Regions from separate parts of the Homo sapiens genome. Here all the other regions are linked to region 1. The links come from fine-mapping of genetic effects on gene expression. A gene starts in region 1. Each other region holds a variant in brackets. All regions are shown on one strand. Distances are from middle to middle. Region 1 holds the start of FERMT1 (FERM domain containing kindlin 1). Region 2 overlaps FERMT1 (FERM domain containing kindlin 1). Region 3 overlaps FERMT1 (FERM domain containing kindlin 1).

The links. PIP is the estimated chance that this variant, and not a neighbour inherited with it, causes the effect. A credible set is the group of variants that fine-mapping cannot tell apart.
Region 2: its variant is the best candidate, but not a certain one, in a credible set for the expression of FERMT1 in left ventricle (GTEx, PIP 0.68).
Region 3: its variant is the best candidate, but not a certain one, in a credible set for the expression of FERMT1 in subcutaneous fat (FUSION, PIP 0.84).

What each region holds. Positions count from the first base shown.
Region 1 is chr20:6,118,790-6,128,878 of GRCh38, forward strand. FERMT1 (FERM domain containing kindlin 1) reads right to left here and starts at 4,241. Exons shown (of 15, transcript NM_017671.5): 1 at 3,985-4,241; 2 at 615-783. The coding sequence starts at 765. RefSeq lists a silencer at 4,127-4,246.
Region 2 is chr20:6,082,048-6,092,136 of GRCh38, forward strand. FERMT1 (FERM domain containing kindlin 1) reads right to left here. Exons shown (of 15, transcript NM_017671.5): 10 at 6,918-7,042; 11 at 5,730-5,836; 12 at 3,019-3,240; 13 at 1,993-2,117. Among named protein-coding and RNA genes, the nearest start is that of LRRN4, 33 kb to the left of the region's middle. The variant G/T (reference allele first, on the strand shown) is at 4,031.
Region 3 is chr20:6,070,427-6,080,515 of GRCh38, forward strand. FERMT1 (FERM domain containing kindlin 1) reads right to left here. Exons shown (of 15, transcript NM_017671.5): 14 at 9,010-9,151; 15 at 4,419-6,920. The coding sequence ends at 6,747. Among named protein-coding and RNA genes, the nearest start is that of LRRN4, 21 kb to the left of the region's middle. RefSeq lists a silencer at 3,859-4,008. The variant A/G (reference allele first, on the strand shown) is at 5,592.

The DNA of each region.
Region 1 (10,089 bases):
CACTAAGCTCTCAAGTATTAACAGAGAGTTAACCCAGTAGTCTAATGCCAAGCTACTTAAAGTCACATTAGATGTCACCGGTGGAATGGGTCCCATCCCTGTTGAAGTCCAGCATTATACCTACTGGGAAATTTAGCTTGCCACCAAAGACTCAAGGTTTTTTTTTTTTTTCCCCCGACACCGAGTCTTGCTCTGTCACCCAAGCTGGAGTGCAGTGGCACGATCTTGGCTCACTGCAACCCCCGCCTCCCGGGTTCAAGCGATTCTCCTGCCTCAGGCTTCCGAGTAGCTGGGATTACATGCACCCACCGCCACGCCAGGCTAATTTTTGTGTTTTTAGTAGGGATGGGGTTTCGCCATGTTGGCCAGCCTGTTCTTGATCTCCTGACCTCAGGTGATCCGCACACCTTGGCCTCCCCAAGTGCTGGGATTACAGGTGTGAGCCACGGCACCCAGCCTGGGCTATTTCTTTCTCTCCTCTGGGATGAGGGGTGGGGGATTGCTCTCCAGGGCATTACAAGATAAATGATCAGAAAAACCTACACCAGCCATTAGTGGTGATGCACCAGACAGGGTTTCTAATACAGAGAAACCGTAAAGCAAGAGTAACTTACTGATCTGTTCTACTAACTTGAGCATCACTCCTCCAACATGAAGGTCTCCAGATACTCTCAGTGTGACGTCTTTCTGCTGCTCTTCATTGGGATGGTCAACGCGGACCACAAGCTCCCAGGAAGCAAATGTAAAGTCAGTGGATGACAGCATTGTGGCAAATGCTGGTGTCTGCTGAACAAAAAGGCAGACATAGATTGGAATGTGGGAAGGAAACGGGACTTGTCAGTAGACTTGCAGAGCAAAATTTCTTTTTTGTTTTGTTTTTCATTGTAACCTCCTCTTCAAAACACTCTGCAAGGTTCCAGGTGCTCCAGATATCAAATTTGGCATCTTAACTTTGAAGACAAAAAGTTTTATAAAAATGGTCTCAAATCATCTAAATTTACATACTTCATTTTTCCATTCACCCACTTCTCCAAGACCACTTGGCTATGTATTTCCTTCGTCCACCCAATGCTTCAATCCTCATTTTCTCTCTATTGACTTCTTTTGACCTTCTCTCAACTATTCTGGCAATAGGCAATCTTCCATATTATCTTTTAAAGAAATCAATTTTATTAAGGTATAATTTGCATGTAATAAAATGCGCAGATTTTATATACTATAGTTCAACATATTTTGTTGTATGCAAATTATACTTCAATAAAGTTGATGTTTAAAAAGGATGCCATTAAAGCCTCTTATCTTTAATATCTTTAATATATGTATATTATTACATTCCTCCTACAAAAATGTATATCTTCCCATAATAAAGCTCAAAAAATAAAAAAAAGCAAAATAATTCCTATTTCAGTCATTATAATATATAGTTTTACCTTAAATACATATAGATACAGGTCATTAATAATTATTGCCATGTATTCGATTTACTTATTGTTCTATGTCATATAAAAATTGATTATAAATGCACCAATTAAAAATTTGGATACATCTTTGGCAAAAGATTTAAAAACAGGAGTAACAGATATAAAAAGCTCACTCTTCAAAGTACAGATAGGGATGTGAATTTCAAACCCATCGTTTTCCCCTCATGGGAGAAGCTAGCAGGAAAGAACGTTCACAACTGAAATGTTTCAGGGGGTAACTGGAACACTGGAATCCAAATTGGCAGAACTGAAACAAAACTTGAGATGTCAGTTCTCTCTTACTTTTAAACAGAAAGAAATAATGCTACTGCTCCTGGCTGTTTTAAACATTTAAAGTAAAAATTATTTAAATGATAATGAGTCTTTTTCACTTTACTATGTAAAGCCAGCTTATGAGAAATTCATGTTTTCATAAGGCCTATTTTTAAGAAACATCAATGCACTCAAACTCCTAAGAAAGGGCTTCTCTGAGGGTGTACACAAATCCCCCAGGGATCCTATTAAAATGCAGATTCTATTCAGCAGGTCTAGGGAGGGGCCATACATTTCTTAACAGGCTCCAGATGTTGCTGGTCTGTGGGTATACTCAGTTCTTCCCTTCAACCTATTTAGATCAATATTAAACCAGGGATGATGGTAATATCCGAGGAACATTACTTTTAATAATAATTAAACAACCAGTGTCATATCTGTTCTGCATGTTCATTCGAAACGACTCATTTGTAAGCATAAGAGAATCTCAAAATACGCTACACAGATAAATTGAATACTGCAAATCTGAACAGATTTAGGACAGATTTTATGGGTGAGGATGAAATTCAAGAGTTCAGAAGTAGCTCCTTATGTTTTTGTTTTGTTTTTGTTTTTTTTGAGATGGAGTCTTGCTCTGTCACCCAGGCTGGAGTGCAGTGGCATGATCTTAGCTCACTGCAACCTCTGCCTCCCGGGTTCAAGCAATTCTCTGCCTCAGCCTCCCAAGTAGCTGAGATTACAGGCGTGTGCCACCACGCCCGGTTAATTTTTGTATTTTTAGTAGAGACAGGGTTTCACCATGCTGGCCAGGCTGGTCTTGAACTCCTGATCTCGTGATCCACCTGCCTTGGCCTCCCAAAGTGCTGGCATTACAGGCGTGGGCCACCACGCCCAGCCGTTCCTTATGTTTCTATAGTCAGAAGCATGCAACGATGCAATGCATCTCCTCCCCATGCACAGAGATCCACACAGAACCCTCTGCATGAGGAGTGCCACTCAGTGACTGCATTAGGCCTAACTGCTTGCCTCTGTCATCATCAGCTTCAGGTATCATTTATTACCTACTGACTGTATGATGTGCTCTGTGTTAACTCCTGTCTTCTGTTATCCCTTTTTCATCCTCTCAGCAATCTCATTTAGAAATGAGGAAACTCAGCCTCAGAGAGATGAAGCAAGTTGCCTGAGGTCACACAGCAAGTTAGATGCTGGAGCCCAGGTGGAAATCCAGGTCTGCCTTTCTATTTCAAACTCTTATTCACCACACTGGGAAACCACTTTGATAATGTTGCAATGCCAAAATGAAAGAAAACTCCTCAAACTACGTGAACTAAATTCTCAGTAGCCTTTACTAAGCATTTCTATCAACACAAATCTTGCGCAGTGAGGAGACAAAAGATGCCCCTTCATCGTCAAACTCATAACTTGGCATTGAACTGTTCGACTTTAAGATCCTTACAATTTCTTAAATGCTATAATTGTGAAGTCTAGTTATTTAAAATGTTTTGTATATAAAGAAAATAACTTTTAAAGGTGATTCCTTACTGCTTATTTCACTGGGCAATCTGATATAAGGTCTTTTCCTAACTTGGGTGATCAAAACACTACTCATTCAGGCAATAGATGCTGATTCCCCTTACAACAAAATGCAGGCTAAAATTAGCCAAGCTGGTTTTCCTGCATTCCTTTCCTATCTTTCTGTGCCTTCATTTTTGAGTGAACGTCTAGTCTGCAGCAAGCTGTTACTTGTCAAGGATAGCAGCAAACTTCAGCCGGGAAAACGCATCTAAGGAGACCAAAACAAGAAGCAAAGTTACTGGCAGAGTGCTGAAAAGCCCTTCGCAGACAGTCAAAGAAACGAAAGCATGGAGGGATGGAGAGCAGGAAGGAGGAAAGATGAGGGGGAAACAGTCCCCGACCCTTCCCCTGGAATATCTGAAGGTGCTTGGTGTTCGAAGGCCACCCGACCTGTCTTTTGCCAGCTCTGCAGGATCCTGGGGCGGATGTTGGGTGGATAAAGCATGCCCCTTACTCCCATTAAGGCAGCACCTGCGGCTGAACTGAAAGTTTATTTTGCGGCCAGATGCGTAGGGCCGGAGAAGGTGGTCACATCCAGACGAAATTATTTTCAATCAACAGCTATTTAAGTACAAGAGGCTGCAGAAAGAAAGGGGCTAAGGGGGCTCAGGAGCCACTGGTGCCCATGAAAGCCTCCCAACCTCTAGCTCCCCAGCCCTAGCTCCGGAGCACCCACCTCCTTTCCAGGAGCCCGTAGCGTCCAGCCTCGCAGTCGCGCACGTGGAGAGCTGCGTCCCTACAAACTACCCCGGGCCGAGCCGAGGAGCGGGCGCTGGCGAAGTGGGGAGCGGGGGGCGCCCAGTGGCGGCGGCTGCTCAGCTAAGGCTGCGGCAGGTGAGGGCTGGAGCCAGGGCGAGCAGGCGAAGCTGCCTCGGGACCTCCCACGGAGGCTCGGTGCCTGCCCCCAGCCTGGCGCGGCGTGCCCGGTGCACTGCACGGCCCCAGCGGCCCGGCTGAGGGCAGCGCGCAGCGTGGCAGGCGAGGGCACGCCCAGCCCCGGGCCTGCTAGGTCTCGCTCCCGCGGAGAGGAGGCGCAGTCTGCAGATTTTTAAGGGCAAAGGGTGGCCGAAGGGCTGCTCGGCGGAGAGAAGGCGGCGAGAACCCGGGGCGCACGCTCAGTATCTGCAGCTCCTCTTGCGATGTCTCATCCTGACGCTTTAAGGCCGCCTCCAGTTTCCCTGTTCCCCCAGGCCCGCCGGGGACTAGCCCAGATGATTAAAGCCGCGCCACTTCCCCTCCTTTCAGGCATACCCATCACTCACACCCCGGGGTGCGTCCAGGCCCAGGAGACTCCAGCCTCCCGCCTAGAACAGCTGCCTCCCTCAGAAAGAGCCCCGGAGCACTTGTGGTCAGGGAGGTGAAGGCAACGACAAAACGATTCGTCTCTGAGTAAGAGGGTGGTGTCAGTCTCCAGAAGGCTGAGGCTCCCGACCAGGGGAGACTCCAGGAGACCCAAGGGCAGGCTGCATGCGGAAGTCTGGGCCACACCTGGTATGGCTCACCTCAGGATCACCACCGGTCCCGCCAGTCGCCTTCCTGTTGGATTTATTTTCAAAGAGGGCTGGGGCCACCCAGGAAGGGTGGGTGACCTGGGCAGTTTACACAACCTCTCCAAGCCTCCTTTGTTCATTTAATCACATTTGTTGAGTGCTTACTGCTCTACAGGCCTCCCAATGGGCCTGGGCTCAGAGAATACAGTGGTTAATAAAACAGACATGGAAATGACAGTTTCCTCATCTGTGAAATAGGTACAGAGATAGAATGCGTGCTCTTCCACGGAGGGATTTCATGCAATATAGTACAGGCTTTAGCGATTTGCATTAAAAGGCTTGTGAACACTTAAATTTTAATAAAGAAGTTATAAAATTTAGAAGTTGAATCTGTTTTCGCTTAAACATTACCATATTCAGGAATTATTATGGGTTTGAAAGTACATTTAATTTAAAAAGGTTAGTTGAACATTGTTGGCAAATATAGGATATTATAATTGAAATAAAATCATTAAAAACTTGAAACAGAATGTCTTCACTTGGTAGCGTTTGTCAACGATGGGAAGGGTCATCTGGTCCCACTTCCCTACCTCTTAACATCATGAAACCCTGCTTATGGCCCATTAGAACTTAGACTGTGGTCAGTGCGCGCGCGCGCGCGCGCACAAACACACACACACACACACACACACACACACACACACATATATTTTTTTGAGATGGAGTCTTGTTCTGTCCCCAGGCAGGAGTGCAGTGGCACGATCTTGGCTCACTGCTGCACCCTCCGCCTCCCGGGTTCAAGTGATTCTCCTGCCTCAGTCTCCCGAGCAGCTGGGACTACAATTTTTGTATTTTTAGTAGAGACCAGGTTTCATGATGTTGGCCAGGATGGTCTTGATCTCTTGACCTTGTGATCTACCTGCCTCGGCCTCCCAAAGTGTTAAGATTACAGGTGTGATCCACCGTGCCCAGCCTGTGGTCAAGATTTTATGTGTGACCTTGAATTATGGCTCTATCTATTCATACCAATATGGTTTTTCTCTTTTCAATTGAAAATATCTGCATTGTGCTAAAGAATTCGACTGGTTTTAAGCGTTCTTCTTGGCCTAGGTTAATTTTTAAACTTGTAATTTTATGTAGTGACTTGTGTGTATATAAATGTGTATCATATATATACACACCCATACATATACACAATATATATAGATAAGAGCACAAATCGTGAATGTATAGCTGATGAGTTTTCGCAAACTGAACACACCTGTATACAGAGTATATAAAGACACTAGCGTATAAAGAGTGCCCAGTTGAAGAAACAGGACATCACCAGTCCTCGGAAGCCCGTTAGTGACCCCTTTTAGTTATTCCTTTCAGTTATGATCACTGCCGCTGCCTGCCCCTACCCCCGACCCCAGGCCCAGGATAACCATTATCTTATCTTCTAACTCCTCAGAAGGGTTTTGCCTGTCTTTGTACTTTATATAAATGGAATCAGACCATGTGCACTATTTTGTGTCTGGCTTCTTGTGTTCAACATTATGTTTGTGAGTTTTATCCATATTATGTGTCCTAGGCTTTTTTTTTTTTTTTTTTTTTTGAGAAAGGGTCTTGCTCTCCCCCAGGTCAGAGTGCAGTGGCATGATCATGGCTCACTGCAGCCTTGATGTCTCAGGCTCCCAAGCTGGGACTACAGGTGTGAACCACCGTGCCTGGCTAATTTTTAAATTTAGCTGCCTGAGCTGGTCTTGAACTCCTGGGCTCAAGCCATCCTCCCATCTTAGCCTCCTAAATTGTTGGGATTGCAGGTGTGAGTCACCATGGCCGGCTGTCCTAGGCTTTTAATTTAACTTTATGTTTTACTTATTACACGGTTACTGTCGTTTGTGTGACACAGGTCCAACCCATCCCCCAAGGTCCTGGGTTAGAAGTGGGTTAAAAAGTGTATTCTGAACTTCAAAATTTTGTACATATATATTAAAAAAAGCACACCCTTTGCCCCCTTAAAAAACAAGCAGAATCAATTCACTGAGTCTGTTATTTAATTAATTCATACATATTAATCAGCAATGGATTATTTATTTGCTAGTCACTGTATTACTGTGAGCTAGACATCGTAATATATGTTGAAAATACTCAGATTAACTGGGCACGCACTTTGTCTTCAGATGATAGGAGGGATGCTAAGGAATACAGAAGAATGTGTCTACTTCTGCCAGGTGTTTGGAGTGGCAGGGAATATGAGAAAAGGCTTCAGAAAGGAGGTGATTTTTGAGATGGAATTTGAAACATTGGATAAGAGCTTCATAGTTTCTTATAATAACCTGAGGTTTCTAGAGAACTGTTTTAAGGTATTAATATATTTTTTTTAGTTAGCAGATAGTTGCGCTTCAGGTAGCAGAAGGGTGGAAGATAAAGAGAAGCTCTATTTCTTGACTTTGAAATCTTATACATTCAAGTTGCAAATATTGAAAAAAAAATCTGTTGTCAATTACCCATACACTGATAAACTCACCTTTGAACTAGTACCTTCAAAAAGGTAAATCAACTGGGTGTGGTGGTTCAGGCCTGTAATCTCAACACCTAGGAGGCCAAGACAGTAGGATTGCTCGAGCCCAGGAGTTTAAGACCAGCTCAGGCGGCATAAGGAGACCCACATCTCCACCAAAAAACAAAAAATCATAAAAATTATGCGATGATCTGTGCAGCAAACCACCATGGCACATGTTTACTACGTAACAAACCTGCACATGTACCCCTGAACTTAAAATAAAAGTTGAAGAAAAAAATTTTTAAAATAATAGAAATTAGCTGGGTGTGGTGGTATGTGCCTGTGATCCTAGCTACTTGGGAGGCTGAGGTGGGAGGATCGCTTGAGCCTGGGAGATCCAGGCTGCAGTAAGCCATGATTGCACCACTGCACTCTAACCTGGGTGACAGAGCAAGACCCTGTCTCAGTTAAAAAAAAAAAAAAAAAAAAGTAAGTCATGTCATGTCTGGGGTATGGGTAGATTAGACTGAATGAGAGATGTGGCCATATTCCGTATTCACTGAACACAAAAGGGAAATAAATGAGTAGAGAACTTTGAAAGTCTCTGCTGCTTTAACTTGTTAAACACAAATGATTTTTTCCTCTAGCACCTTTTTGCTAAAAATTCTATAGAGTTAATTTAGGTAGAATAAGAAAGCTGCTTGAAGGAGAAAAGAAGTGGATTTTTTTTTCCTGATTGATGATTTTGATAAATATTTACCCAATATAAAGTTCTCTATTAAGTTTTCAGCTTATAAACCTGCTAGAAGTCTGATGACTTCAAAACGGCAACAGACACCTAAAATATATTTTTATTTGCATTGAGTCCTTGGCACATACAAAATGGCAGCTGTGTTCACGTGTGCAGTGAATACATTTTGCTGAGTGCAAAGAAGCAGAATGTGCCTATTATTGCTACACCCTCCTCCCCAACTGGATGGATAATGAGCACTTTCTATGCCCAGGCAAGTTCTAAAGTTTTCTCCTTGCCAGGGTGAAAAGGGTGTGTCTCAATGTACTTACAGGGCTGAATGACAAAGAGCAAAGAAGAGTAAAAATGGCTTTGCTGGGGGCCATGCTGGAGCCCACCTTTGAGAATGAGAGAAGCAAGAAACACAGTGCCTCCCTCCTTCCATCCCTCTTCTCCTCCATCCCCTGTTCTCCTTCCTTAGATTGCATCCTTCTTAATCAAAGGGTACAAGAGAGTATACAGTGATAATTAAATCTTCCTCCCATCCTTGATTATTGAGTTCCCTTCCCTAGAGATAATAGTTACCTGTTTCCCCTGAAACCTTCCAGAGATAGTCTATGCATGTAGACAATTTCTGCTTCTTATGCAAGTGATAGTAGTCTATACATATTGTTCTGCATTTTGCTTTTCTAACTTGAAAATATCTTGATGATTGTAGCAAATATCAGTCATACTCATGGCTGCCCATCATCCTTGGAATGGCCTCCTTAATATTTGTGGAAATCTTTATGTCTTAATCCCAGTCTAGAAGTCAGAACTCAAATTCCCAACCTCGCTTGCAGCGAGGGCACAGGCCTATGACCTAGGCTGTGTCATTCAGATACTCAGGAATGACTTTAATTTGAAAGTGAGTGAGGTGCAGAGACAGGATGTACTTGGAGCTTCCATCTTTTCTGATGTGAGTGGTGTCAGGAATGACTATGGTGGTGGTAGTGGCAGTGGCGATGGTTTTCTGGAGGCTGAAAGGTTAAAGTCCCAATGCAGAAGTGATGTCAGGGCTAGTGGGTGGTGGTAGCAGGTGCAGTAAAGTCAGGTTCAGATGCTTCAATGGTGACTCCCTTCTCGTGTTAGTCCTACAGCATCATTTCAGACTTTGTTCTTGGTGCTTAGCTCCAAGCCTCTTCCTCCTGCTGTCCTGTCAGGTTGTGTCCACTATGATGGAGCAAGACCCTGTCATCTATGATGATGATGACGACTTGCCTAATTATTTTTCTGTTTAAGCTAGCCATAGTGGATTCTGTTATTTGTGCCTAAGAGCTCTTACTGACAAAGAACGTGTTACCGGAAGTGGGATGCTACAAGTAACAACACTAAAAGTAGAATTGACTAAGTGCAGCAGGCAGGCCTTTGAGCAAGGAGGGGACACACATTACAGGCTGGAAAGCTGGTGACTCTTGTAATGCAGTGGCAAAATTTTGCTTCAACTACTATATACAATACTTGAAGATGCACACTGCAAGCTGAGTGAGGCTGTGATAAGAGGGGAAATAGTGGGGAGCATTCAGAATGTTGGTTTACATTGATGACTTCTTGCTCTTTCAGCAGTCTTGATAGAGCAGCTATACCCACACCAGAGTCCTCCAGCTGACAAGAGAGGTAAGGAGAGAAACTGCTTTGCCAGGAGGGGCCCTCTGCTGCAGCTGGAGGTCCAAGTTGACCGAGAGCCCAAAATTTGGGCTGAGAAAACAAACTACCACTTTATTCAAACCAAAGCTGGCATAAGTAGCTATTGAAGGGAAATGAATACAACCCTTATTATAATAGCACTATTATGAGAGTAAATGAAAGAGCCCGTGTATGTGTCCCATGCCTTCAAAATGCTATTGTGATTTATATTAATAAATTATTATAATTATTATGGGTGTCTGCTGCTGTCTATATTTCTACCTGACTACTGGGTTTAGAATATGGATACAACTGCTAGCATGGTTGTTTTGAGGGCAACTCAGGTTTATACTTTTTGTAGCCCAGCAAATAGTTCAGTATGCTTTAAATAAAGTCCGGGAAGTAAGG
Region 2 (10,089 bases), 37 kb before region 1:
CCAGACATCCTACACACAGCATGGCTGCTCCAGGCTTTGACTCTGACTGACCTTGGAAAAAGCAGATCTTCGCTACACCTGGGCCCACTGCCTCAAAGCCTCACCTCCATAAACAGGTGTTAGAGATAGAGGGAGGTGCAGGGGGAAGTAGCTGGTAAAGGAGGAGTTGTCACCGGAAAGTTGTTCAGGCCCACACCACGCTTCACCACGTATCAGGCACTTTGCTTGCAGGCTGCACTGGATTCTCTCAACACAGTAGGTTCGGAGAGCCCACTGGACACATGGAGAAGCTGCGCTTGGGGAGCGCAGCAAAAATGCCCGGGTCACAGAGCTAGCAGAGGCAGAGGTGAGACTGAAAGCTGGGCCTGGTCAGTTCAAGTATTTATGTGGTTTTCACTATGCGGGGTTGACTTCAGGGTTACAGGTGAGTGTGTGTGTGTCCGCACATGGACACATATGCGCGCACATAGTGGGTATCCAGTACGACTCCGCGCTTCCTCACTCCTTTGTTGGGGTAAGTAAAGCAGAAGGAGTTGCTTGTTTGGGACAAACGTTGGGGACTGATATTCAATGAGATATTTCAGTGAATAGGAAAGTCTGTTTTTTCTGTTGTTTTGTTTTTGTTTTAGAGACAGTCTCACTGTGTCGCCTAGGCTGGAGGGCAGTGGCGCGATCTCAGCTCACTGCAACCTCCACCTCCCAGGTTCAAGTAATTCTAGTGCCTCAGCCTCCTGAGTAGCTGGGACTACAGCTGCACACCACCACGCCCAGCTAATTTTTTTTTGTATTTTTAGTAGAGATGGGGTTTTGCTACGTTGCCCAGAGTGGTCTTGAACTCTTGAGCTCAGGCAATCCGTCCACTTTGGCCTCCCAAAGTGCTAGGATTACAGGCGTGAGCCACCGCGCCCAGCTGGAAAGTCTGAATAGACTCCCCTGTTAGAAGTAATGGAGGAATGGAGTCTTTGGAAAGGGCCAAGAAAACAAAAACTGCCAATGATTAAAAATACAAACCAATTATCCCACCCCGAAATTATAAGATGAGAAAGTGACAGTACTTGCTGTACTGTAGGATTGGGGGTAGATTTTGCTTAAGCATCAGTCTCCTTTTCTGAACTGAAGAATGTAATTTGATTTACAAGCATGCTTGTGGATATGTTTTGGGAAACCATCCATTGTATACAGTGGGGCAGAGCCATAGTGCTAGGCGGGGATAACAAATGAGGATGCAGGGCTTTATGCCAAGTGTGCCCTGGACTGGGGGTGAACTTGGACAAGTCACTTAAGCTGTCTTTCTGGGGGCAATAGATGGGCCTCCTATGCATCCTTCAGACCCAGAAATCTTCAGAGACCAGTGAGAACAGGGTTGCTACCTGATAAACCTGGGTAGAAATAAGACAGAGCTTGCGGGGACCTCTCTAAAAACCTAACAATTCTGCAAAGCCACACCACGAGACACTATGAGACACAAAAAGGAGGAAGCTGACATGAAAGAAAGTCGTAGCCAGGTGTGGTGGCTCATGCCTGTAAACCCAGCACTTTGGGAGGCTGAGGTGGGAGGATTGCTTGAGATCAGGAGTTCGAGACCAGCCTGGGCGGCAAAATGAGACACCCCCCCCCCCGGCCACCCTCCCCACACCCGATCTCTTAAAAAAAAAAAACAAAAAAAAAAAAACCGAAAAGAAGTTACAGATTTCATAAAATCAATATGTGATGTTTACCCTCTGGTTTTGGAAATGTAGTTATCCTAAAAAAAACCCTCCTTTTAAAATTTCCTTTCCCACATTTAGCTGAGTTTCAGGGGTATTGGAACTTAGAACAGAAGGTATGGAAAATGTTTATGAGCAGCCCAAAGTGTCAGGACTATTTATAAAAGGGCAATATTCTCAAATAAAAAGCATTCTATATTCTATGCTAAATGAGAAAACTGGGGCTCCCCAAAAGCCACTTAAAATTGAATGGAAAGTGTGAGAAACAAGTGAACATTGTAATCACCTGACAAGGTAGTAGGTGAGGCCAAACTCAGGCAGTGACTGCCACGCCTGGATGAACCGCAGCTTGGCTTCGACCAGGGGCATCTGGGCCACGTTCTGGTGCGCCTCCAGGATCCGGGCGGCCAGCTGAACAGAAACAGACATCAACCTCTCTTCACATGCACCGGCTGCTCTGTGATCACCCTGTTAGCTCCAGATCCCCCATAAGAACAATACACTCAAGGTCCGTCTGCAGCTCTACAAAGACAATCCATTCTCATCCATTCATTCTCTCTCTTTTTCTACAAGATACAACAATCACTGGAAGAAGCAGGAAAAGGATCACCCAACACATAAACTTCTAAAGTTGGTGCAGTTGGAGAGCTCTGGGGTCCCTCTGTCTGAGGTCTGTGGAGTGTCCACAGACAATGATTCTACATGAATCAGCTCATCTGTGCAACTTTTAACCCACTCCTATAGAAGCATAATTTTAATTATTAATTTGTGAGAACTAAATAAGTTCAATCTGGGAATACCTACATGTTTAGTCAGCAGTACAGTCACCTCTAACAAAATTAACAATAATTTCATAACATCATCTAATATTCAGGACATAGTCAAATTTCAGCATCAACTGATTTTTTCATGATGATACTCTTAATTAGATGGAATTACTCCTTTTTTTTTTTTTTCTGAGACACAGTCTTGCTTTGTTGCCCTGGCTAGAGTGCAGTGGTGCAGTCTCAGCTCACTGCAGCCTCCACCTCCTGGGCTCGAGCAATTCTCCTGCCTTAGCCTCCCAAGTAGCTGGGATTACAGGTGTGCACCACCACGTCTGACTGATTTTGTATTTTTAGTATAGAAGGGATTTTACCGTGTTGCCCAGGCTGGTCTTGAACTCCCAACTTCAAGTGACCCACCCACCTTGGCCTCCCAAAGTGCTGGAATTACAGGTGTGAGCCACCATGCCCAGCCGGAAATCCTCCTTTTATTTCTGTTTGCATAAAGAATTTACTGCAAACAATTGCCCTAACAAGATTAACAGTACCTGTTTGGATTTGTGTCTTTTTGCACACCGTGGTGACACAAAACATTCTGGGTTCATATCCATGTTTTCGAGACTGGAAGCCACCTGAGATGCAGAGTTCCTGTTTTTCATCCTCAGAAATGAAAGGATGTTGAGGACCTCTGGCTGGTAGGAGCTGTCTGCCATGGTTTTGCCCTTCGATGCCAACATGCAGGCAGCCATCCATTGGGCGTATTGATTCTCCTGCAGCAAACAGAAGGTTGAGAAGCAAGCTCAAGTGCAAAGCCCCCTGCTGCACACAGAGGGGGACTTGGGCTTTCTACCCCATTACAGTGCAAAACCATCACCTTCCAAGCAAGATGTGAAGTGGCACACGTTGTGAGTGGCTGCTCATCAGCTAATGTAACACCTAACAGTAGTTTTTGAGTCCTGTGTTGAGTTTCTAGATGCTGGGAGGCTAGAGGATAGGAATGTCAACTTTGATAAATTGCATGCAGGGAATTTGCATTTAAAGATGATCCAAGGGCCAGGTGCGGTGGCTCATGCCTGTCATCCTCAACTTTGGGAGGTTGAGGTGGGTGGGTCACCTGAGGTCAGGAGTTCGAGACCAGTCTGGCCAACATGGTGAAACCCTGTGTCTACTAAAAATACAAAAATTAGCTGTGCGTAGTGGCAGATGCCTGTAATCCCAGCTACTTGGGAGGCTGAAGCAGGAGATCCCTTGAACTCAGGAGATGCAGGTTGCAGTGAGCCAAGATTGCACAAACGCACTCGAGCCTGGGCGACAGAACAATACTTTGTCAAAAAAAAAAAATACCAGGTGTGGTGGCTGACACTTGTAATTCCAGCACTTTGGGAGGCCGAGGCGGGTGGATCACGAGGTCAGGAGATCAAGACCATCCTGGCTAACATGGTGAAACCCCATCTGTACTAAAAAATACAAAAAAATTAGCCAGGCGTGGTGGCAGGCACTTGTAGTCCCAGCTACTTGGGAGGCTGAGGCAGGAGAATCACTTGAACCTGGGAGGTGGAG[G/T]TTGCAGTGAGCCGAGATTGCACCACTGCACTCCAGCCTGGTGACAGAGCGAGACTCCATCTCAAAAAAAAAAAAAAAGGTCCAAGGACACAAAGAAGTGCCATGGGGCACAGATAGGTGGTGAAACCGCAAACTGTCAGCTTTCCTTGATATGTATTTCTGTTTTCATATCACATCTGGTCTCTACGCCCAAAAGAAAATGATGAAAAAAATTAGCTGATTTCCTATATTATTTGTATCCTGGTCTATCCTTGGTAAAGACTCTAACTCTAAGGTAGCAATCATGGCCATTATGGGATCTTAACAAGTCAGTGGTGGCTTCTATTGCTGTTTAATTTCTGTGTTTTATTTCTGACTTCAGGGAGTGAACAGGGGTGGTCCTCAGAAGTGCAAGGGATACAGTTAAAGAGGGGCGTTCTTCAGTGCAACAGTGGGTGAGGAACGTTGAATTACTGGCCTCAATCTTCACTGCCCCTGATAAGGTTTGGCTCTGTGTCCCCACCCAAATCTCATGTTGAATTGTAATTCCCAGTGTTGGGGGAGGGACCTGGTGGGAAGTGATTGGATCATGGGGGCAGATATACCTCTCGCTGTTCTTGTGATATTGAGTGAGTTCTCATGAGATCTGATGGTTTAAAAGTGTGTGGCACTTCCCCCTTCACTCTCTCCCTCTCCTGTCACAATGTGAAGATGTGCTTGCTTCCCCTTCACCTTCCGCTAAGATTGTAAGTTTCCTGAGGCCTCCCCAGCCATGCCTCCTGTATAGCCTGTGGAACTAGGAGTCAATTAAACCTCTTTTCTCTCCCAGTCTCAGGTAGTTCTTTATAGCAATGTGAGAATGGACTAATACACCCCCCACCACTGCCATCCACAACCTTCGCCATATAACTTTACAGTTCCTCCCACCAGGGAGGAATTCCCATCCCTTGACTGCAGGCTCAGTCATGTCTTCTGCTTTGGCCAATGGAATGTGGGTGGAAGTGACAGTGTGCCAACTTCATGCCTAAGCTTTAGGAGGTGCATGTGTTGCTACGTGCCCTCTCACACTTCTGCCCTCACCAAGAGGAGACCTTCCCTAGGCAGCCTGGGACCCAGAATAAATAAAATCAGCTCAACCAGAGGCACAGTCCCACCAAACCTGTGTCTCCAAACCCATATGACCAGCTGACACCATCCTGGATCATCCAATCCCCAGCCTACCTTTCAGCACATCTTTCAGAAAACAATGTTTATTGTTTTTCTTTTTCTGGGGGAACAGAGTCTTGCTCTGTCACCCAGGCTGGAGTGCGGTGGTGCCATCTTGGCTCACTGCAAACTCTGCATCCTGGGTTCAAGTGATTCTCCTGCCTCAGCCTCCCAAGTAGCTGGGATTACAGGCACCCACCACCATGCCTGGCCAATTTTTGTATTTTTAGTAGAGATGAGGTTTCACCATATTGGCCAGACTGGTCTTGAACTCCTGACCTCAGGTGATCTGCCCACCTTGGCCTCCCAAAGTGCTGGGATTACAGGTGTGAGCCACTGCATGGCAAATGTTTATTGTTAGAATGTCATTGTGATTTTGTTACACTGTGATTGTTTGTTACAAAGCAATAGCTGAGTGACACAATAGTGCTCTAAATTTGTGAAAACATTTTTGGGTTTTGCTCTTAGGCTTAGTGGAGGTGAAGTGACTTAATATTTTTGGGGTTTTACTCACATGGTCACATCTCAAATACATTTCATTCATACCATCGGCAACAGGGATTAGTAACTTGATTCCAAATTTTCTTCCTGCTACATTTACATCGGGCACAACTTCGCAGCCTGAAGGACAAAGATCAGAGACAAAACTGAGTTCTGAGGCATCTGTTAGATAAACATCAGGTGTGTATCTGAAATAAAGACTTTGAATACAAGCCCCTCAGATTTGCTTTGGTTTTGAAAAATGGAGGAGCAAGCTGATAACATTAATTAATGGATAATTAGATAAATCTTATGAACAATTAACATAGATAAAGAAAAATGCTTTTCTTTTACAGTTTTCTTAAAAAGTCAATTTAGTTCATTTTCAGGTTAATGCTGGCTCTCCAAACTCATAGAAAAAATTGTGGATATGAACTTTAAAATAAATCAAAGCAGAAGGAATTCTCTGATTGTCACAATAATGTGAGTTGAGTGTACTGGTTAATTAAATATTTCAATTAATAGATGGTTATCAGGACGCTCACAGTGACCTTCAGAAATTAGAATAGGCATTAAAGTGACACTGAATTAAATATAACTGTTCTGGAATACAGAAAACTTTTCAGGATCTTACAGCACCTCATGTGCTATACTCTTGGACATGAATTACCACCACATCATAAACTCTGGACACACTGAGAAAGATGGAACAGCAGAATGCAAATAATCATGTTTACTAGACTGCATTCAAGGCTCATGCTTGGAAGAGCAGCTGCAGCCAGGCTGTCATTTGGAAAACAGTGACACTGGTTCTGGTGGTTCCTCTAGAAGTAAGTAAACCGTGCCTCATGGTGTCGAAACCCTGACTTTAATCTGCTCACCTCTTTTTTTTTTTTTTTTTTTGGAGACAGAGTCTCACTCTATCACCCAGGCTGGAGTGCAGTGGCATCATCTCGGCTCACTGCAACCTTCACCTCTTCAAGTGGTCCTCCTGCCTCAGCCTCCCAAGTAGCTGGGACTACAGGCATGTGCCACCACGCCTGGCTAATTTTGGTATTTTTAGTAGAGATGGGGTTTCACCATCTTGGCCAGGCTGGTCTCGAACTCCTGACCTCAGGTGATCCGCCCGCCTCAGCCTCCCAAAGTGCTGGGATTACAGGTTTGAGCCACCGCGTCTGCCCTGACTTACGATGAGCCACAGCAAGATATAGGGTACTCTTACCTCTAAGATTTAGTTTTTCTAGTGGTTCTCCTTGTTCAAGTTCCTTATTTTTAAAGTATGCTATGGATGTGTCTTTAAAGATAAACCAATATTGTTTGAAAGCTTTTGGTAGTAACTTCTTGGGCCTGCAAATTCAAAGATAGTGAATGTTTAAACCACCACCCAGAAATGTGGAACACGCTGCAGATTTCAAGCAGATCAGATCAGATGTTTGTGTCAAAGAAAACACACTTTGTTTTTTCAAAAATAATTTCAAATTGCTAATTTCCAAGCGCTGGAAATGAAATGCTGATATGTGATGTAGATTTTAACACTAAGCCTCCACCTGGGGCCACACCTGGCTCTGCTACTGTCTACACGTGTGTCCTGGGAAAGATCCTGCACTTACCTGGGCTGCGTGCACTGCCTCTGTGTGATGGGGACCGTCGTAGTCTGGGAACCCAGGGCTTTTGTGAGGACAGAATGAGTTCATCTACATGAAGAGCTTATCACAACACCTGATGCAACTGAAGTGTTAACTGTGATGGTGTATGTGAGGAACCGACATGAATCTGGTGACATTTGGAATCTCGGCATACTTTTTGCATTTGAAAAAGCTGTCGATATGGACAGCCCAAGCTTCAGGTTACCATACATACAAGTCAGATATAAACATGAGCAGCATTTTCTGTAGTTTCCTCTTCACCCTTAAGAGAAACTATGGGAGAATTCTCAGTGAACCATGGAAATCAGCGATATCTACAGCTAGTCAATATAGACTCTACTGTTATTAAAAACTATTTTGGGGAAAGGTATCCAGCTGTGGTATTGGTATCTGTTGGGGCCAGAAAACTTTATACAGTGGACTAGACAAGGTTGGTGGTGCCAGTGGCAGGCCTAAAGGTTGGGTCATTCAAAATAGGAAACGTGAGAATGAGCTAGGGGGAGGACAGGGGTTGGAGATAGGCAGAGAAAAGAAATTATTAGTATGCGGTTTGTGGAAGAAACCTGGCCGTGGGGGCAGATCAGGGTATCTCATGCCAGAGGGGCGGACTTCTGCATCAAGAATGGGAGAAGAAAGGAACCTTGGTGTTCCTCTTGGAGAAGAGAGGAACCATTCATATGTAATTTGGGGCAATTTTTTTTTTTGGAGACGGAGTCTCGCTCTGTTGCCAGGCTAGAGTGCTGTGGCACGATCTCGGCTCACTGCAACCTCCAACTCCCTGGTTCAAGGGGTTCTCCTGCCTCCGCCTCCTGAGTAGCTGGGATTACAGGCATGTGCCACCATGCCTGGCTAATTTTTGTATTTTTAGTAGAGATGGGGTTTCACTATGTTGGCCAGGATGGTCTCGATCTCCTGACCTTGTGATCTGCCCGCCTCGGCCTCCCAAAGTGCTGGGATTACAGGCATGAGCCACCACGCCCAGCTGGGACAATTTTTTTAAACATGTCAGTACTAGTCTTTCCTTAGCTAAACATATGTTATCCTTAACACAAAGATAGGAAAGAAGTTGCACATTAAAAAAAAAAAGTATATGCTGGGTGCCAGTGCCATCATCTCAGCACTTTGGGGAGCTGAAGTGAGAGAATTGCCTGAGGCCAGGAGTTTAGGACCAGCCTGGGCAACACAGGAAGATCACATCTCTACAAAAAAAGAAAAATTAGCCAGGCGTGGTGGTGTGTCTATAGTCCCAGCTATGTGGGAGGATTGGTTAAGCCTGGGAGGTTGAGGCTGCAGTGAGCTATGATCACCCTGGGTGACAGAGTAAGGACTTGTTTCTAAAAAATAAATAAATAAAATTTAAAAACCCAGCAAAACCCCCTCAGTGTATTACAGAAGAATATTACATATAATTTATAAAATAAATTTGAAAAACATTATATGAACTTAACATTTCCAGGATTAAGAAAAAACACTGTATTAAAATAGTATTTATTTGCTGGGTGCGGTGGCTCGTGTCTGTAATCCCAGCACTTTGGGAGGCCGAGGCAGGCTGATCACTTGAGCTCAGGAGTTTGAGACCAGTCTGGCCAACATGGTGAAACCCTGGCTCTACTAAAAATACAAAAATTAGCTGGCCGTGGTGGCGTGCACCTGTAGTCCCAGCTACCCGGAGGCTGAGGCACAAGGATTGCTTGAATTCAGGAGGCGGAGGCTGCAGTGAGCCGAGATCACGCCACCGCACTCCAGCTTGGGTGACAGAGCAAGACTTCGTCTCAAACAAACAAACAAAAACCAAAAAATTGGTATTTATCATGTTGAGGGCTGTAGTTAAGACAGTTCTTTTTTTTGTTTTGTTTTTTGAGATGAAGTCTTGCTCTGTCACCCAGGCTGGAGTGCAGTGGCGCAATCTTGTCTCACTGCAGCCTCTGTCTCTTGGGTTCAAGCGGTCCTCATGCCCCAGCCTCCCGGGTAGCTGGGATTACAGGCACGTGCCACCACGGCCGGCTAATTTTTGTATTTTTAGTAGAGCTGGGGTTTCATCATGTTGGCTAGACTGGTCTTGAACTCCTGAGAGCTCAAGTGATCCGCCCACCTTGGCCTCCCAAAGTGCTGGGATTACAGGCATGAGCCTCCATGCCCAGGCAGTTCTAAGGAACATATTGTTGTTTAATACTCAGATTCTCCAAAATGAATAGTATTTTCAGAATAATAAAGACAGCACCTTTAACCAAAAGATACAGGTAATAAGGTCTTGGTTTAATCTTCAGCCTCTAAATATTTCTCTTTAGGATTAAGAATGAGGCCCTACTTCTCTGTTCTACCTGGACCTTAAGAGTATCAAGAGATCTCAAGTTCCTCCTCCTATCTCCTGCCTGGAAGTTTTGTCATCTTTCAGGATGCTTCTGACACATTAACAAAGCTAATCATTGCTGCTGCTCTATGCAGCAAAGCCTGGGGCAGGGTAGGGGAAGGGGCAGCGGAGGCGATGCTGGGTGGTGAATGACGTGCATAAGAACGAGCGAGACAGGCTCTCCAGGCTCTCGTTAGAATTTTTTTTTTTTTTTTTGAGACAGGGTTTCACTCTGTTGCCCAGACTGGGTGGAGTGCAGTGGTGCAATCTCGGCTCATTGCAACCTCTGCTTCCCAGGCTCAAGCGATTCTCCTGCCTCAGCCTCCCCAGTAGCTGGGATTACAGGCGCGTGCCACTACCACCTGGCTAATTTTTGTAGTTGGTTGTGGATATTCCCC
Region 3 (10,089 bases), 48 kb before region 1:
GCCGTCTTTGGGACTCCTTGGCCTGCACCTGCATCACCCCTGTCTCTGTCTCCATCATCACATGGCCTTTCCTGCTCTTTTCCTTTGTTAGTTAGTTTGTTTGTTTAAGACAGAGTTCTGTTCTTGTTGCCCAGCTGGAGTGCAATGGCACGGTCTTGGCTCACTGCAACCTCTGCCTCCCAGGTTCAAGCGATTCCCCTGCCTCAAGCGATTCCCAGTAGCTGGGATTACAGGCGCCCATCACCTTGCCTGGCTAAGTTTTGTACTTTTAGTAGAGATGGGGTTTCACCATGTTGGTCAGGCTGGCCTCGAACTCCTGATCTCAGGTGCTCTGCCTGCCTCAGCCTCCCAAAGTGCTGGGATTACAGGCATGAGCCACTGCCCCCAGCCTACCTTTTCCTTTTTTTAAGGACACCAGTCATATTGAATTTAGGACTCACCTTAATCCAGTATGACCTCATCTTTACTTGATTACATCTGCAAAGACCCTATTTTCACATAAGGTCACATTCACAGGTTCTGTGCAGATGTGAATGTGGGGGGACACCATTAACTCAGTACACTGGCTGGCAGAATTTATGGCATCTACACTCTTTCTTGACAATTCCTCTGGTGTCTGGTATCCTCCCTGCCAAATCCATGCCACATCTCTAAGGCCAGATCTTCTTACACTCCTCTGGGCATACATATCGCTGAGAGTCTTGTTAAAAGGCAGACTCTGACTCAGAAAGGTCTGGGTGGACCTCAGAGCTGGGATTAGGGTGAGCCGAGGAGGTGCCCTGTACGACCCTGACAGTGAGGGCCTCCTTAAATGCTGTGCCCGGGATGCCTCACCTGTGCCACCCTAGTCCTGGCCCTGTGAGATTCTGCCTTTCTGACAAATGCTGCTGGGCCAAGGACCACACTTTGAGTTGCAGTCCACGTGGGTTTCATGCGTGGTATCTCACCCTCAATAGCAATGAGGGTGTTTCTATTTTGAAGTTGGATGTCTGTAACTCCTAGAAAGGTAACAGTGGTTCTGCTACATTTTTCTTTTTCTTTTTAAATAACATTGGGTCACATGGGCTGGGCTGGCTGCCAATAATGTTGGTTCTTTAGTGACATTTCAGGAAATTAAGCTGGTAGCACAGAGATTCAGGGCCCCTTTGTAAGCACCTGGTCAGACCTTCATCCCCAGCCCTCCTGGCTTCCCAGAATATCCCACCATTAGTTCTGCCTCCTGACCTCTGTAGCACTGCCTGGAAGAGGTCTTTGCTCTCTTCCAATAGCCTCCCCTACCAGCCAGGGGCTGGGCCCAAACCAGCTACCCCATCACCAGCAATAGAGCCTATGCACTGAGCCCTGACCCCAGGCCTTGCTGCAAGCCCTACTCTTTCCTTACAGTTTTATATATATATTTATTTATTTATATTATATATATATTTATATATTTATTTTAAAATTTTATTTTTAGAGAATAAAATTTTCTCAGGGTCGTGCTTTGTCGCCCGGGCTGGAGTGCAGTGGTGCAGTCATAGCTGTCTATATTTTTGAACTTAATTTGCCTTCCCTGTTACCGGCCCCATTTATGTCCATCAACACATCTCTTGAGTCAGAGGGCACAGGCTTGGGGTGTTGGGCCCTTCCCTCCCCCAGATCCTCTGCTCCTCTCACACAGGGCTCTGCCTTCTCTCCACGCTCCACTTTTGCAACTGAGGGATGTCAGAGGGCAGCCAGAGGCCTCCCCGCCCAACTTCCAGGGGTGAAGAAGAGAGACACTATCCTGTTAAGTCCCCATGCAGCTTTTGTCATTTGCAGTGGCTAGGGAGAAGCGGCTATAGGACTTTTCCTCTGTGATGACTGAAGACACTGCAGCACATGGGGAATTATGGGTGTTTTTGGAGCTCACAGAGTAAGTTGGAGAAAAGAGGTAAATCCTTTTAGTGGAAAGAATCTTCCCCACAGGTGTTAGTCAGGAGCATTCTCATTCAGGTTTTTTAAAAATTGGGACTCCTCTGAGATAACTGAGCCTTTACAAAAATTATTATGATTATTTTAAATAGAGACAGGGTCTTGCTGTTGCCCAGGCTGGTCTTGAACTCCTAGGCTCAAGCAATCCTTCCGCCTTGGCTTCCCAAAATGCTGGGATTACAGATGTGAGCCACCACACCCGGCCAATCACTGAGTCTTGATGCAACATGAGATGTGTGTGCAAATGTCAGGATAGCTTTTTCTTTTCGGTTTTTGTTTGTTTGTTTGTTTTGTTTGTTTTGTTTTTGTTTTTTTGAGATGGAGGAGTCTCGCTCTTTCACCCAAGCTGGAGTGCAATGGTGTGATCTCGGCTCATCGCAATCTCTGCCTCCCAGGTTCAAGTGATTCTCCTGCCTCAGCCTCCCGAGTAGCTGGGATTACAGGCAGGTGCCACCACACCTGGCTAATTTTGTATTTTTAGTAGAGACGGGGTTTCTCCATTTTGGTTAGGCTGGTCTCGAACTCCCGACCTCAGGTGATCCTCCTGCCTCGGCCTCCCAAAATGCTGGGATTACAGGCGTGAGCCACCGTGCCCGGCCTCCCCTCTTTCTGATAGCACTCAATATTTCCACACAACTCCAGTGAGGTTCAAGGAATTGGAAAAACTTTGAAGCAAGTGAGGGCCAAGGGCTTCACTTTTTCAGTTTTTCAGATTTTCCAGCTATGATTTCCTGGACTCAAGAGTCCTTGGCTGTAGGGTGCATGAGAAGGAAAGATGGGTGAAATAACAAAGAGGAATGTTCCCTTTCTGTCTCCTACCACTGAGAGATTCTGGGGTGACAGGAGTGGAAGGGGGAGAGGCAGGAAAGTCACGCTATGTGAGAAAATAATTAAAATGAATATAGAGATACTAAATGTAGAAGCCAATTTTTTTTTTTTTTTTTGAGACAGGGTCACTGAGGCTGGAGTGTGATGGCATGATCATAGCTCACTGCCACCTTGAACTCCTGGAGCTCAAGGGATCCTCTCATCTCAGCCTCCCAAGTAGCTAGGACTACAGGCATGTGCCACCATGCCCAGCTAATTTTTTAAAATCTTTGTAGAGATGGGGTCTTGCTGTGTTGCCCAAGCTGGTCTTGAACTCCTGGGCTCGGGTAAGCCTCCTGCCTTGGCCTCCCAAAGTGCTGGGATTACAAGGTGAGCCACTATGCCCAGCCCCCAAAAATAAATCTTGTGAGTTAAAAATAAAATTTTAAAGTGATTTTAGAAGACAGATATTATAAAATATCTTGACTTCTTGTATTAAATGAGTTTTCAAATTAAAGCTTCCTCATTTCCTTACTTTTCTGACCGTGGGACTAAAAATGAAACTTTCCCAAAATTAAGCACGGTGGCTCACGCCTGTAATCCCAGCACTTTGGGAGGCCGAGGCAGGCGGATCACCTGAGGTCAGGAGTTCAAGACTAGCCTGACTAACATGCAGAAACCCCGTCTCTACTAAAAAAAATACAAAATTAGCCAGGCGTGGTGGTGCATGCCTGTAGTCCCAGCTACTCGGGAGGCTGAGGCAGGAGAATCGCTTGAACCTGGGAGGCGGAGGTTGTGGTTAGCTGAGATCACGCCATTGCTCTCCAGCCTGGGCAACAAGAGTGAAACTCCATCTCAAAAAACAAAAACAAAAATTAAAACAAAGAAAAAAACAACAACACTCTAAGCACCTCATTTCTCTGGCTCCCAGACCTTTTTGGTCCAGCCTCTCCTCCCACAGCTAACTGCTCTTAATGCCCCTGGTTCTCTCTTACTGGTATGAGCCTGAGCTCAGGAACGCCTGCTCTGGAGCTAGGGTAAGGGGCATTTCAAGGCTGGGCAAGGCTGGGAAGGAAGGGTGGGGTTTGCTGGGTTAAGCTTAGTGGCTTCTGGAGTCAAGACAAACACTGCTCATTGGCAGTGTGACCCTGGGCAAGTTCACCTTCTGAACCTTTCTCCTTTGTAGAGGAAGCCATTTCTACCCTCTGTGGGCTGACAGGAGAATTGCACAAAGGGATATCTATAAACTGCATGTCACTAAAGCAAAGTGCCCTCAACACTCAGCCATCAGAATCAGAGGCTTCTGCTGTTCTATTGCCGCTGGGGATCTTTGCTTGCTGGTGTGTGTGTGTGTGTGTGTGTTTTAATATAGAACTGGAAAGAGACAAAAGAGCTCATGATAAGGCAGGATATGCCAGGAAATCTGTGACCAAGTCAGTGAGAAAGGAGTTGAAACCAGCGGGTAAGTGAGGTTTCTAAGGGGCTCTCTGAGGACCCCTGGAATCTGCCACTCCCCACACCACGGGAGGGAACGACCCGGAATCTTGGCGCTGTGAGGAGAGACACATGTTAGACCTCAGAGTTGCAGTCCCTTTTCATAAGAGAGGAAAAAGTCACCTTTTTGGAGACAGTAGGTTGGAGAGGACACAACAGGACCGTACTCAAATCCATATAAATCTTTTACTTAAAAGTCATATAAAAGAATAAAAAATGCAGATTTCTGAATCAACTGTAGATAAGGAAGCAAATGATGTTGAAAGGTGCCCATTAATTTAAAATTTCATCATAGGAATTTGGGTGACCTTTTGCACTCAGTATTAAAAAAAACCATCAAGTTGCTCTTTGGAACAGTAGCATTTAGGTTTGTTTTTTTTTTTTTTTGTCACACTTGTTTATTTCTTTGGGATGTTGCTGTGTGTCATGGAAGAAACGCTCCCCTGAAAACTGTAACCAAACAAAGTTTGGTTAAAACAAAGTTGGTTCCTTTGTTTTCATGGAAATGTCAGACAACTATGAAAAGCTAAGGAAGCATGTTGAACTGAAGGTCTGGCTTTGGTAAATTAGGCAGAGATGTTCTCAGCAGCAAACAGGTAAAATCTGACATCGAGAAGCATTATTTTAATGTAGGACCAGTTATAATCTTAAAGAACTGACTAGGTTCTAAAATAATAGAACTGAGAAATAGGACTGAGAAATGACCAACATCAAGTATATACGGTACACTTAGCACTTGTTTCTATAGAAAACATTTCAAATCAAGTTCTTTATGATGTGAACCAGATTTTCCAAATGCCTAAACCACTTCTGAGCTTTAAGCAAGGCCTCAGAAATTCAGCGGGTGCCTGGGAGGCTTCATTCACATTCACCTCTAAGGAGAGGCTAAAAGAGGAATTTCCAGATGGCAGCTACTGGCTCAGAACCAGGGGGTCCCTTGCCAAGTCTGTCTCTATGTGGCTCCCGGAATTGCTGAGGTCTCACTTCTCAGAGGGCTTTGATGGAAAATAAAGCAACAGCTGACGCTCACGGGCCTCGGAACTCTGGCCAGGCTCCCTGAGGGGTGCATCCTAGGAGAACTGAAAAATGGGATTGGAGCTTTTGCCTTATCCTTACACCCCAAGTTCTTTGTGTGGCAGAACATCTATGAAAAAATAATAAAATATTGTCTGATATTTCCCTTTACTTCTGGTATTGCTTTTGACCTTCTCAAAACCCACCCCTCCCACCTCTAACAAACCAAAATGGAAAATGACAATTCAGGCAGCTGTTAATTGGCTCACTCTCTCAAGGCAAGCACTGTCTCAAGGCAGTCTCAAGGCAGAGATGACACAGCAAAA[A/G]ACAGAGGGGGAGAAAAAAGTCTATTATTGGCTTGTGATTTACAAAAGCCAAAGTCCTTTAGATAAAAGGCCAGGAGTCGTACCAACATAGATACCAAATCCAGGAGAACACAGACCAGCGATAAGAGGGACGCTTCCCCATGACCCAGACCAGCCTAAAGCCCCTGTGGGGGCAGCCAGTGGGGAGCTGTCAGACCTTGGACATGGTGGTCTTTGAGAATGGGTCTGCCCTTCTCTCCCTGACCAGTTGGGATAGACACCTGACTGGAATCCTTGACACTGGCAGGTGTTTCTATGAACAGAGAGGACTGTGCCTGTCTTCCTGAATCCCAACCCAGAGTAGAAGCAGTGGAGACATGGATCTGGGTTGAGAAATGGGTTTTCCTGTCCCCCTGTGTCACCCACATCTTCACAAAGGACTTACAGGTGGCTGAGAGATCTGTAGGAATGGAATGGGGCTTGCAGGTGGCCCCAGAAATCTGAGGAGACCAATGACTAAGACCAGATGTGGGTCAGTGGTCATCTTGGCAGGTATCACTGTGGACAGATGACACTGAGGGCCACTCCTCTGACCTTGGGTTGTCAACTGCTACCTGGTAGCCCCACCCCTCCCCTTTCTACCCCTAGACCTTGGCCTCCAGGGAAAAAGTGTGTGTAGGAACTCCCTCTGCCATTTTGAAAAGACAGGAGCTAAAAGCAGTTCCATGAAGGACAGGCGTTTCGTTTCATACCTGAGTTTGTGAAATAAGAGTTGTTCTTGCTACACGTGATTTTTACCTTTCTGTCTTCTCCATTGACTTAGTAATGAGACAGATCAGCACGAGGATAACTTGTAGCCATACACCTGGCAGGTTCTGCAAGTCAGAGAACTGTAACCACATGCTGGGCCTTAGAGCAATCTTAGGGCACCTGCTTTTCTCCTGCCTACCCATTTTATAGAAAAAACAAGAGAGGCTCCTTCCGTGGCTGGTAGCACAGGGCAAAGTAAGGAAAGGGATGTGCCAGCAGTGGGTTTGAATGAGGATCTGGGTGACCAGCGGTGAATGTATGTTGTCTGTTAGTCCAGAATCTACATGCTGGGCACGTTAGGGATCCCTCTGGGGAGGGGCGCCTTTGGCTTGCCTTGTTGGTGTGAGCCGAGCACGCGTGCTTGTTTCAATCCTGACCGCCGGTCAATTTGTGGAACAAGTCCTCATCGAGTGTTTCATTCTGGTCCTTGGAGCGGGTGGACAAGAAAATGTAGCCGCCAATGTACTCGTGCACAATCTTGCAATCTGCACTCAGGCAGGTGAAAGCAGTAAAGACGTTTTGGTCAAACTCGATGACCACCTGGAAGAGGAAGGCACAGAGAAGCTTAAACTCTGACAAGGAATGATGAAAAAAAAAGTGCTTTGCTGGACTGGCCCCTGGAGCTGAGGGCTGCTGAGGTGGATAACAGATGGATATCCCTCTAAAACACACAGAAAACCATCACTTCCATTAAACGCTTCCAGAAAACATCTTTGCTCTCTTTGCGCCCTCTGGTGGTGTCGACTTTGCTGCACGTCTGGTTAAAAAAACTCCCAACACATTTTCTGTCTACAGTTTAGATACAAGGATTTTGCCCAAGCACTCTCTGTCTCCCTGTGTTGAGGGGCAGGGTGCTTCGCAGGCACTTTATTTTTATTTTTATTTTTTTTTTGAGATGGAGTCTCTCTCTGTCACCCAGGCTGGGGTACAGTGGCACGATCTCGGGCCACTGCAACCTCTGCCTCCCAGGTTCAAGCGATTCTCATGCCTCAGCCTCCCAAGTAGTTGGGATTACAGGTGTGTGCCACCACACCTGGCTAATTTTTGTATTTTCAGTAGAGACGGGGGTTTCACCATGTTGGCCAGGCTGGTCTTGAACGCCTGACCTCAAGTGATCCATGCCTCGGACCCCCAAAGTGTTGGGATTATAGGCGTGAGCCACTGCACCCGGCCTGCAGGCTCTTTAATGAATAAAAGTCTGCCTGAATTTTCCTACAGCCACTGCCCGGAACCCTTTCCTAGCTGCAAGTCATAAACTCTAAGCACTAGAAGAAAGACTTAGAGACTTTGCTGGTTCACAACCTTGGCTGCCCATTGAAATCACTTGTGGACCTTTAAAAATTACTAATGGTTCGTTCCTCCTCCCAGAGATTCAGATTTAACTGGCCTTGGGTGTGGTCTAGGCAGTGGTGTTTTAAAGCTCCCCAGGTGATCCTAATACGCATCAAGGCTTTAGAGCTACCGCCTTAGAGGTCATCTAATCTCTGAACTTGATTTTACAAATAAGCACCCAGATGATTATCAACACTGCTGAGAGGAAGTCAGGGTTCTTAACAAATGTGTGGGTCTCTTACCATCCCTCTACGTCAGTGACTTTCTATTGGAAAATGAGAATGCCAAAGGAATGAGGGAAGATTGAGTCTGTATCAGCAACATCTGAATGTTTTAATTAATTCAAGAATGAATGAAACAGGGTCTTGCTTTGTTACCCAGGCTGGAGTGCAGTGGCACAGTCACTGCTCACTGTAACCTCGAACCTCAACTGATCATCCCTGGCTGAGTAGCTGAAACTACAGGTGCACACCATCACACCTGGCTAGTTCAGCGTTTTTTTTTTTTGTTTTTTTTTTTTTTAATTTTCTGTGGAGACAGGGTCTCATTATGTTGCCCAGGCTGGTCTCGAACTCCCAGCCTCAAGTGATCCTTCCCACCTCGGCCTCCCAAAGCACTGGGCAGAATGTTTTAAATTAGCGGCAGGATGCTAAGCTGCCTCTAACTTCATCTGGAATTTTCCATGATACAGGCTTGGCCTGAACTTAGCTCCTAGGATGGGAGATGATGGGAGGCTGTAACATAGGCTAGGGGTTTGAGGGCTCCTGGTTTTAAGAGGTGAAGCTTTTCTCAGTCATCACTATGGACCTCACTTTCTTCTTCAGCAGTTTTTCCCTTTTGGGCCTGGAATGCTCTCCAGGTGAGCAACTGAATCTTCCAGTCCTCCATCGGGTTTCTTGGCAGCCAGTCAGATGAGGCTTTTTTTGGATTTATTTTGCATAGCAGTTACATCTCCAGTAGTTTCTCATAAGTAAGTATCAAGCTAAATCCTGTATAATCCTATGCTGAGTCAATGAAAATTAATGAAACTGCTCAGCGATTTCAGAACCTGTCTGTATTGAAAGTCTGCATGGAGACTAAGCCAACTTGCAGTGCTAATGCAAGAGCATTTGGCCTGTGCCTGTTAGGAAGCTGCCCAGAATTGCATATGATGATTTTAGCAGACAGACAGTTACCATATGCTTGTGGTTTCTTAGGTCTAAATAGAAGAACACCTTTTAAAACTCAGAATAATCTGCAATTCTGAGGGACACACATTTATAGGCTCAACACTGAAGAGCAAAAACTTTCACTTTACCTGCCGGGTTTCCCAGTTTACATTCCACTGTTTGATATTTGTGAATCTCCATGTTGTCACTGGAATCCCGGTGGCTGCATCAATTTTAATCAACCTGTTATATGAAACTCCCAGAATGTCATCTTTTTTGCTTCCTTTAAATCTGAAAAGAATCATAATATTAGTTAAGAGAAGCAACTGCTTCCTATAATACAATGTTCACTCACATATAACTTCTTAAAAATACTACCAGTATTTCTGAATCATTTCAGAGGAATGGACAATGAAGAATTAACTTTCTGCAGGGGGGCATTTTTATTGGGATATAGACAGCGTGAAAAAAGAATGAAGGCTATCCTGCAGATGGTCTTTAAGTAAAACTGACATCAGAGAGAAGAAAAATAAGATGGAATCAAATAAATTCATTCAAAATGATTACTGACTCTGTGTTGGGCACCCTTCTAGGCATGGGAGATATAGTAGTAAACTAAACGGATGGAAAATTTCTGACTGTGGGAGGGAGAAGATCATAAGTATGAGGTACATATGCCAGATAAGATGAAGGAAAATAAAGTTGGAAGGGCTACAGGGAATACTGGTAATAAGGTGGTTACAGTTTGAAACAGGGAGGTCAGTGAAAAGGTGACATTTGATCAAAAAATGGATATGCATGAGGATGTGAGCCGCGTGGATATCTGGGGAAAGAGTATTCCAGGCAGAGGGCACAGCCACTTAAAAAAATTTTTTTTTTAATGTGCTTAAGGACCTGCCAGGAGGCCCATGTGGCTGACACAGTGAAGGAGGGGAGAGAAATGTGAGTTCAAGAGCAAAGGTCTTGTAGGCCACTGTAAGGATCTGGCTTTTACTCTGAGTGAGATAAGAAATCCTTCAGATTTTGTGTGTGTGTGTGTCTTGTAGAGACAGGGTCTTGTTATGTTGCCCAGACTAGTCTTGAACTCCCGAACTTAGGCAATCCTCCTGCCTTTGCCTCCCAAAGTGCTGGGATTACAGGCATAAGCTGTCACACCTGTCCCAGATGGTTTTGAGCAGAGGCTTCACAAAATCTGATTTAGATTTTAAAAGGATCCCTCTGGCTGCTAA